2 separate regions of the Homo sapiens genome follow, and region 1 is linked to region 2. Evidence: fine-mapped expression QTL. A gene starts in region 2. The other region holds a variant in brackets. All regions are shown on one strand. Distances are from middle to middle.

Region 1 (5,237 bases), 110 kb before region 2:
AATTAGCCAGGTGTGGTGGTGGGCGCCTGTACTCCCAGCTACGTGGGAGACTGAGGCAGGAGAATGGCATGAACCCAGGAGGTGGAGCTTGCAGTTAGCCGAGATCCCGCCACTGCACTCCATCCTGGGCGACAGAGCGAGGCTCTGTCTCAAAAAAAAAAAAAAAAAAAAAGAGTATTGATTCACATGATCACAAGGTGAAGTCCCACAGTAGGCCATCTGCAAGCTGAGGAGCAAGGAAGTCAGTCCGAGTCCCAAGTCCTCAAAAGTAGGGAGGCCAACAGTGCAGCCTTCAGTCGGTGGCCAAAGGCCTGAGAGCCCCTGGCAGGCCACTGGTATAGGTCCAAGAGTCTGAAAGCTGAAAAACTTGGAGTTCGATGTTCGAGGGCAGGAAGCATCCAGCACAGGAGAAAGATGGAGGCCAGAAGACATAGGCAGTCTAGTCCTTCCATGTTCCTCTGTACGCTTTTATCCTAGCTGGGCTGGCAGCTAACTAGATGGTGCTTTCTCAGATTGAGGGTGGGTCTGCCTCTCCTAGTCCACTGACTCAAATGTTAATCTCGTTTGGCAACACCCTCACAAACACACCCAGGAATAATACTTTACATCCTTCAGTCCAATCAGGTTGACACTTAATATCAACATCACACTGTCGCCCAGGCTATAGTACAACGACAGGGTTGTAGCTCACTGCAGCCTCACTCTTGGGCTCAAGCAGTCCTTCCACCTCACCCTTCCAAGTAGCTAGGACTACAGGTGTGCGCCACCATACCCAGCTATTTATTTACTTACTTAGTATTGTAGAGATGGGTTCTTGCTATGTTGCCCAGAGTGGTCTGCAACTCCTGGGCTCAAGCAGTTGTGAGCCACTGTGCCCATTCTAAATTTTTAAATTAGCTTGTTAGGGTTATACACATATGGAAACAAAAACCTGCTGACTGCTGACTTTTCAGAGTTGGAATTGCAAATACTTAAATGAATCAATTTAGAGAGAGTTGATCTCTTCATCATATTGAGTCTTCCGATCCATCATGGAAAATCTTTCAATTTATTTAAGTTTTCTTTGATTTTTTTTCTGCAAAAATTAAGCACGTCTTTATTTCCCAATGTTTTATGTTCTATGATGCTATTTATAAATATCTTATTGAAATTTTATTTTCTCTCACTGGTATATAGAAATGTAAATGATTTTGTTTATAGATTTTTTTAACAATCTTGCTCTTACGAATTCTAATAAATTCATTTAGATTTTTATGTTATCTATGATTTAATGACAGTCTTATCTTTTTCTTTCTAATCCTTATGTTTTTGTCTTGACTTATTCTGGCAGAGAGCTCCAGTACAGTGTTGAATGGAAGTGTTGATAGCAGGCATCCTTGCCTTGTTCCTCATCTTAAAAGGAATGATTTCAACAATTTGCTATGAGCCTTTATTCGATTAAGGACATTGGAATAAAAGTTGTTATATTCAGCAAATACTGAATTTTATCAAATGCTATTTTTAAAAATTTTTTTAATTTTTAATTTTGTGAATACATAGTAGGTGTATATATTTGTAGGGTGCATGAGATATTTTGGTACAAGTATACAATGCATAATAATTACATCAGGGTAAATGGGATATCCATTACCTCAAGCATTCATCATTTCTTTGTGTTATGAACATTCCAGTTGTACTCCCTCAGTTATACTGAAATGTACAACTTATTGCGGACTGTAATTACGCTGTAGTGCTATCAAATATTAGATCTTATTTATTGTATCTAACTATATTTTGTACCCATTAACCATCCCCGCCACTACCCTTCCTAGCCTCGGATAACCATCATTCCATTCTCTATCTCCATGAGTTCGATTGTCAGATGCTCTTTTTTTTTATGATCTGAGATGATCATATGATTTCTCTTTTTTGATCAGGTAATGTGAATTAGCTTGACTTTGTAATATTAAACCCATCTTGTATTCTGCAGTTAATCTCAACTTGATAGGTTAATCTGGATTATACTCTTTATACACACACACACACACACACACACACACACACATTCTTAGTTTGCTAACATTTTGTTTAGGGATTTTGCATCTGTGTTCATGAGTGAGATTAACTTTTAATTTTTCTTAAATTTATGCTAGCCTCATAAAATGAGTTGGGAGAAGGTTCCCTTTTCTCCTCCCTCCTATAATAATGTATATAAAATGAGAATTATTTGGTCCTTAAATGCTTATAGAACACACCAGTAAAACTGTTGGTGCCTGGAAAAATTTTTAACTACTGATAGAATTTCTTTAATGGTTAAGACTATTCGGATTTTTTAGTTGTGATTGACTCAGTTTTAATAAGTTGTACCTTCTTCAAAGAATTTGTTCATTTTGTCTGAGTTTTCAAATTTATTGGCATCTAGTTTTTAGAACATCCTTGTTTTGTATTTTTTTATTATTATATTTTTTTATTTTTGAGATGGAGTTTCACTCCTGTTGCCAAGGTTGGAGTGCAATGGCGCGATCTTGGCTCACTGCAACCTCCACCTCCCGGGTTCAAGCAGTTCTCCTGCCTCAGCCTCCCGAGTAGCTGGGATTACAGGCATGAGCCACCACGCCT[G/A]GCTAATTTTGTATTTTTAGTAGAGATGGGATTTCTCCATGTTGGTCAGGCTGGTCTCGAACTCCCGACCTCAGGTGATCCACCTGCCTCAGCCTCCCAAAGTGCTGGGATTACAGGCGTGAGCCACCATGCCTGGCCTTGTTTTCTATTTTTAATGTTTGAAGTATCTCCAGTTATAGTCTCCTTTGCAATCCTAGTATTATTTGTCATCTCTCTTTTTTTCCCTGGTCATTTTCACCAGAGTTGTTTTATCACTGATTAATTTGTCTTTATTATTTTCTTCCTTCTACTTTCTTTGCACCTATTTTGCTATTCTTTTTATAAATTTTTAGGATAGATACTCAGCTTATTGATATCTCAGCCTTTCTTCTTTTCTAATATAAGCATTAGGCTGTATATTGTCTTCTGAGTATAGCTCTAGCCACATCTATCCCTAGGCAACCACTGATCTTCTAATTGTTTTAGATGGATTTGCGTTTTCTAGAATTTTCTATTAAAGAAATCATGTGTCCACTTTTTTTGTCTTGCTTCTTTCATTTAGCGAAGTTATTTGAGACTCATCCGTATTGTTGCATATATCAGTATTTAATTCCTTTTTACGTTGTATCCATTGTATAGATATGCTTAATCCATTCACCTGTTGATGGACATTTGGGTTACTTCCAGTTTTTGACTATTACAACTAAAGTTGCTGTGAACATTTGTGTATGTCTTTGTGAGAACATATGCTTTTCTTTTTCTTGGGTAGATAGCTAGGAGTGGAATTGCTGGATCATATGGTGGTTTTTTTTTTTAAAGAGACTGCCAAATTGTTTTCCAAAGTCATTGTATGAGTTCATATTCCTGCTTGCAGTGCAGGAGAGTTCTAGTTGCCCTACATCCTTGCCAACTCTTAATATTGTCAGTCTTTTTACTCTTAGGCATTCTAATAGATGTGTACTAGCTCTTAATTGTAATTTTAATTTGCATTTCTCTGATGACTAATAATGTTGAACATCTTTTCATGTGATTATTTGCCATCCATACATCATCTTTGATGAAGTGTTTTATCAAATCTTTTGCCTATTATTAAAATTGAGTTATTTCTTTTCTTGAGTTTTGGGAGTTCTTTATATATTCTGGATAAGATACATGTCCTGTATGAGCTATATGGTTTGCAAATGTTTTTCTCCCAATCTATGGCTTATATTTTCATTATCTTGGCAGAGTCTCTTGAAGAATAGATTTTTTTATTTTGATAGTGGTTGTTTTAAATTTTTATGAATCATGCTTTTAATGTCATATTTTAAAATCTTCGCCTAATCCAAGGTCACATTTTTCTCCTGTGTTTTCACTAAAAGTTTTATAGCTCTAGGTTTTACATCTGTGATTACCTTTTTGTTACGTTTTAATTTAATCACAATGTAATCAGAGGATCTGATCTTTATGATACTGATTCTTTGAAATTGGCTTAATTTATTTTTAGTTTATGTTTTCTTCCAGAATTTTTGTTAAGTATTTACATCCATGTTTATGTAGCTATAGAAATATATAGGTTTTTAAAATTTAAACTAAATGGAATCACACTGGTTATGATGTTCTGAAAGCTGATTCTTTTAACTGTCTCAGATTTAGAGATACACATAATTCCTTTTTACTCTCATATTTTATAGATTAGAGCTATATTTATTTAGCTACTCCTCTAAGATGTGCATTTAAGTTTGCACATTGAAGTATTTTCCAATTAGATGCACATTTAAGTTTTTTCCAGATTTTCTCAAGCATAAATAGTACAGTGATGGACATCTTTATATATGCCTCCTTGGGCTCATATGTGGGAGTATCTCTGTAGACTAGAAGTAGAATTTGAAATTAAAAGCTATCTGGGTCAAAGTGTGTCTTCTAAGGGTTTTTCTTTTTTTTCCCAACAGTTTTTTAACAGTCACATAACTTCATATGCAAGAAGTAGCACCATTAACTAGATCAGTTATTAATTCAGCAGGTATGCATCGAGTACATACTGTGAGAACCTTCCTCTTAGGGGTTTCCAATTCCTTCAGACTCAGTGCCCCCTTTTTAAACAGTATTTTTTTAAAGACCCTTTTACTGTACCAAGGTGATACTCATAGAAAATAAAAGCATTCATATGCAAATAACTTACAAAAATCAATATATAATAATAATTATATTCAGGAGAAATAAAAGGAAAGCAGCCTATTATGAAATAATGTGTATTTCATGTAAATGCTTAGGAATAACTACCAAAGATGATATGACAAGTCACATACTTCTTAAGTAAGTACATACTTAAATAAGGGTACTAAGAAGATACAATTGTTTTGTAGATGAAATGTAGAGTCAGCTGGAATAAATGTTAAATGGAATTAATGTTAGAATAAGTGAGACTAGACTTACTTATGATAAAAACGGTTGACAGGAGGAGTTATTAAGAAGGAGAAAATTGAGGAAGGATGATGTCCTTGCAAAAGATCCATACCTTATGTGGAAGTGTTGTGCCAAAATGATTTCTTACGGTATGTCTTGCCACAGAGTAATGACATTCTGTCATAGAGAACATCTCCTTTCTTGAAATCTGTGTCTGAGGTATACCTTTAGTGTCTGATACTTTAAAAAAGACCTTGGAAAGCATATCCTTTTAT
Region 2 (5,507 bases):
GTCGTCCAGAGAAGCCATGGCAGTGCCGCTCTCAACCCTAGGAAGGCAGGAATCTCATGCCAAGAGTCAGCTTGATTCCTCCCAAGGAACCATGGTTCCCGCAGCATTAGCTTAAGCAGCACACAGATGGTGAGGAAGTGGCTTCATGGCCCTGGATGAGGTTTCCTCTCTGGAGTAGGAGGAGCCCTAAGAAAGAAAAGAAGAAGGGAAAAAAGCCAATTCAGGCAAACTGGTAGCAATTGAGGATTTTCTTCATTCTTTTCACAGTTCAATGGGGTACTTAATGTTTATTCAGTGCAAGTTTGAGAAAACAAACTCTTTCTCAAATCCTTAGACCAAGCAAGCTGCAAAACCTAAAATGTGAAAACATCACTGGAGAACAAAAACTCAATGAAGTGGGAAGCACAGATTCTTGAAATAAGCAAACAATACCTTGGCAATTCTCTTACATTCATTCCAAATGATCCAACTTCATAATTCATATGCCACTTCAGCCACTGGGGGAATGTCTGAAGTACTTATCAACAAGCAGAAGTTTTTACTTGATGCTCTTTACCTTGATTGTTTATTCAACCACATATAGTAAGTTCTTGATACTTGTAAGACACCTGTGTTAGAAATGCAAAGATGAAAAAGATATAGTATCTGCCATAAAAACATACAAAAAATCAAAAATCCTAACATCAGTTAAAGAGAAACAATAGAAACCTACTAGTCAAAAAGAAAAAATCTATTTTATATTTGTAGAGCACTTATCTCTAATGGGCGTACTATATTTTCCTTTTTAAGAGACAGCATCTTGCTCTGTCACCCAGTGAGCTATAATTGCTCACAACAGCCTCGACCTTCTCGGTTCAAGTGATCCTCCTGCCTCAGCCTCCTAAGAAGCTGGGACTACAGGAGTATGCCACCACACCCAGCTAGTTTTTAAATTATTTATAGAGACAGGTTCTTGCTATGTTTCCCAGGCAGGTCTCTAACTCCTGGCCTCAGGCAATCCTCCTGCCTGAGCCCCCCCAAACTGCTGAGATTACAGATGTGAGCCACTGCACCCTGACAGATCTTATAAGCCATTAAGTGACAGTTAAGTAGCAAACCTGATGTTCTCACTGCTTCAAAAATAAAAGGCTGGCCAGGCATGGTGGCTCAAGCCTGTAATCCCAGCACTTTGGGAGGCCAAGGCAGGCGGATCACCTGAGGTCAGGAGTTCGAGACCAGCCTGGCCAATATGGTGAAACCCTATCTCTACTAAAAATACAAAAATTTGCCGGGTGTGGTGGTAGGCGCCTGTAATCCCAGCTAGTGGGGGTACTGAGGCAGGAGAACTGCTTGAACCCAGGAGGCGGAAGTTGCAGTGAGCCGAGATCATGCCATTGCACTCCAGCCTGGGCAACAAGAGCGAAACTCCATCTCAAAAAAGTAAATAAATAAATAAATAAATAAATAAATTGATTTGGGGCCTAAACACTTCAGGGCTTAATAAGTTACATTCTCTTTCTTACTGGCTCATGGCAAAGTCACTTCCAATGTCACCTCATCAAGACACCCAGTCACAAGAGAAATTGAGACAAAACCATTCCACAAAAGCAGAGAAATTTCTCCCCAAGAACCTGGGGATACAAGCCACAGTATATAGTGAGGGGAGATGTGTGACCCTCAGCTTTGGATGGACTGTAGAAGACCACCGAGGAGGGACTGCCTGGTCCTCAAAGCTGAAGGGTGGCAGCAACTCAGAAAATAAACAAATGAGACACCAGGTCCCTATTTTTTCCCTCTAGTTAAGAAACCCAGTGACTTCATAACTTTTCCACTGGAATATAGCAGCCCTAGGTCTGGCCTGTTCCCTCCCCAGCCAGTGGTTCATCTGATGCTGACTCTGACAGCTCCCTTTCTTCCCATGCACTCACCCCTAACGACCACAAATAACACAAAGCCCACCACATCCATGCCACACAACCACCCTTCACGCCTCAGCCCAAACCCAAACCTCACTTCCTCAAAAGAAATGCCTCTTACTCAGAGCATCAGAATGGACTTCTCCTTCACAGCACTCATCTCAATTTATAACCGCAGGTACATACGTGAAGTGACCAAGTAAGACTGTAAAATCTGGGAGGGCACAGACTCTATATGTTTTCCACTTCGCCGTCTCCCCAGGGTTTAGCACAGTACCTGGCACACACAATGAAGCAGCACAATAAAGCTCCATGAATGAACGAAGAAATGAATGAACTCCAAAATCATATAACTAAGCATACACCATAAAGAAATCTAACACAACCACCGAATTGGACCCCACAACCATAACTGAACACATAAGCAAGCCCCTCGCACTCTAAATCACGTAAAAAGTAAAAAAAATAAAAATAAAAAAAATAAATATAGCTACATGTTCTGCAGCCGTACATCCAGCATGAATGTCACCCCGCCACATGCCGCATCGACGACACATCCCACAGCCGCACTCAACCCGGCCTCACGATCGCAACCACAACCCACATAACTAACATGATTATACACACATCGCATGACCACACACAACACGAACGACTCAATCCCGTGAAGCAGACATGACAACGTCACACATCGCACAGACACCACACAAAACACTCCGAACATCTCCACACGAACTCAGAATACAAACGCTTCAGCTTTACACAACCAGAGAATCAAACACAACCGCTCGGGAGACAAGCACCCACCCACTCCACCCACAGCTGCACAACCAAACCCAAGTGTATACGCCCCGCGTAACCGCACAACCACACAGAGCCCAATCATCAAAGGCACACACAAGCGAAACGCACGGCCTGAAAGCCCCATCTCCCACCTCTCACGTCACACCCACCACAACCACACACGGCCCGCCCGTCTCCGTTCTGGAGGAGTCGTGTCCCCGCCCCCCAGACTGGGCCTGACCCTCTGTATGTACCCTGCCGGGCTCCTGCGGGCACCCAGGTTTGTCCCCCCCTTCAGGCCCGGGCTCTGGGCCTCCACCGTCCGTCACTCAGCCGCAGCCGCCATCTCCATCGGTCGCTCGGAACTCGGCAGGTGCGCCTGCGGCGGCGACGAAACCGGAAGACAAGCTGGTAGACGCCTGTCGAGCGCCGAGTCTTCGAGGGCGCGAAAAGGGCGGATACGGATTCGAATAGTGGAGGGCGGGCCGGCGGCTTCTGCGCAGGCGCTTTCCGAACGAGGGAGGGGATGGTGGGGAGCGGAGAGAAAGTGGGGCTCGGTAATTTTGTGCGGTTCTTACGTCCCGAATTCGAACTAATAGCGCGTCAAAGCCAGCCAATGGCTCTGCACCGCCTTGTACAGGTGGGAAAGCTGAGACCAGTAGATCTTTGGCTCTTGACCAAAGTGCACAAAGAATAAGGCAGCCAAGGAATCAAAGTTCCTGAGAGCTAGAGACAGAAAAAATATTCAGGGGACGTGGAGGCGATGGAAAGTCCAAGAATAGAACCACATGAGAGTGGAGACTTGGTATGAGAAGGTGTATCCCGGGGTGTACAGCATGGCCAAGCCTGTGGAAAAGATGGCATTTTCAAAAGGCAGGACGATTGATCAGCCAGGACCTACCCCGTGCCTACGCTGTGCTGGGTACCACGGGGTATAGAGAGGCAAAACCTCATCCCAGTCCCGGAGACCTATTTGCTTTGTGCCCTGCACACGTTCTGGACCTTAGCAATAGCCAGCCTCTAGGAGCAAGAGCTGCAGAGAACGATGGGACGATGGGACGATCCTGGGCCTCCGTTTACATCCCTGCAGTGTTACTGGCCCCCTTTTACAGAAGTAAAATGGGGATGATAATGATAGTCTCCGCTTCACAGTGTTGTGAAGATTGAGGTAATTGCACGGTAGGTAGGTAGGTAGGAGGGTGTCCTGCATATTGGCTTTGCCCATCTCACTTTCCCTGCCTCCAAAAAGTCTTCCCCACCTGGTCTCTGGACAGGAGCACTGAGCCTCCATCACCTTCCATTTAAGGACATGGGGCTCCGGACTTGGAGAGCATTGAGTTTTTGGAAAGCAATCACCAGTGAAAGGGCAGTGAACTAGGGGTCTAGAGATCTGGGTTCTAGCCCTGGCTGTACGTTACTTTGTGGCTTTGAGCAGGTCCTTTCCCCTTTCTTCGCCTGAGTTCTCTCATCTGTACAAAAGAAATTGGCTCCAGTGACTTAGCCTTTTCTCTCAATCTGATGGCCAATTTTTTTTTAACGTTACAACATCTGCAGGAGCGAATAATGACTTCCCTTTGTTTACTGATGGAGACAAGGAAGAGGCTTCCTAACCTGTCAGAAGCAAAGCAACATGCCAAGCTCCCCGTCTCCATCACTAGCTTCTGCCTTAGGTCCCAAAAGCCAGGACTTTGGGAGTAAAACCACCCTTTTGAAAGTCTGAAGCCACCGAGGTCCCAAAACGAGCCACACTTACAGGCAGGACTATGTTTTGGGTAGGGCAATGAACGTTTATTAAACCATCATGATTTTTGCTTGTCATTTTATCATTTACAAAAAACATATTTGGTCGGGCGCGGTGGCTCACGCCTGTAATCCCAGCACTTTGGGAGGCCGAGGTGGGCAGATAACTTGAGGTCAGGAGTTCAAGACCAGCCTGGCCAACATGGTGAAACTCTGTCTCTACCAAACATATAAAACATTAGTCGAGTGTGGTGTCGCTCGCCTGTAATCCCAGCTACTCAGGAGGTTGAGGCAGAAGAATTGCTTGAACCCAGGAGGCAGAGTTTGCAGGGAGCCAAGATTGTCCCACTGCACTCCAGCCTGGGCAACAAAGTGAAACTCCACCTCAAAAAAAAAAAAAAAAAAGAAAGAAAAGAAAAGAAAAAAATATCATATTCATCATTTCATTTGCTCAAAAAAGCAATAGCTATGTGGCCTCAACTTGTAAGTTAATTCTGGAAATCACAGTGGATTGGGCACTGCTCTTGATATTGTTTCTTTTTTTTCTTTTTTCTTTTTTTTTTTTTTTTTTTTTTGAGGCAGAGTCTCACTCTGTCCCCCAGGCTGGAGTGCAGTGGCGTGATCTCAGCTCACTGCAAGCTCCGCCTCCCAGGTTTATGCCATTCTCCTGCCTCAGCCTCCCGAGTAGCTGGGACTACAGGCACCCGCCACCACGCCCGGCTAATTTTTTGTATTTTTAGTAGGGACAGGGTTTCACTGTGTTAGCCAGGATGGTCTCAATCTCCTGACCTCGTGATCCATCCGCCTCGGCCTCCCAAAGTGCTCGGATTACAGGCGTGAGCCACCGCGCCTGGCCGATACTGTTAATGATAATGACAAAGACCTTCCTATATGCTTCACACTTCATCAAAAGTACTTTCTTTAATCCTTTAGGCAACTCTATGACTATTTCCAGTTTGATAATAATAAAAATGACTAATATTTACTGAGGGATTTGCACATGCCAGACACTGTTCTATGTGCTTTCCATATCTTAACTCATTTCATTCTCACACAACCCAATGATGTACAAACTATACAAAATGTAAT

Evidence for each region.
Region 1: its variant is fine-mapped to the expression of RBSN in whole blood (TOPMed, PIP above 0.99).

What each region holds. Positions count from the first base shown.
Region 1 is chr3:14,981,452-14,986,688 of GRCh38, forward strand. All of the region lies in intron 1 of NR2C2 (nuclear receptor subfamily 2 group C member 2), which reads left to right. Among named protein-coding and RNA genes, the nearest start is that of FGD5-AS1, 36 kb to the left of the region's middle. The variant G/A (reference allele first, on the strand shown) is at 2,599.
Region 2 is chr3:15,096,103-15,101,609 of GRCh38, forward strand. RBSN (rabenosyn, RAB effector) reads right to left here and starts at 3,046. Exons shown (of 14, transcript NM_022340.4): 1 at 2,933-3,046; 2 at 2,017-2,172; 3 at 433-608; 4 at 1-186. The coding sequence starts at 18. RefSeq lists a silencer at 1,834-1,913 and enhancers at 2,251-3,115, 3,004-3,133.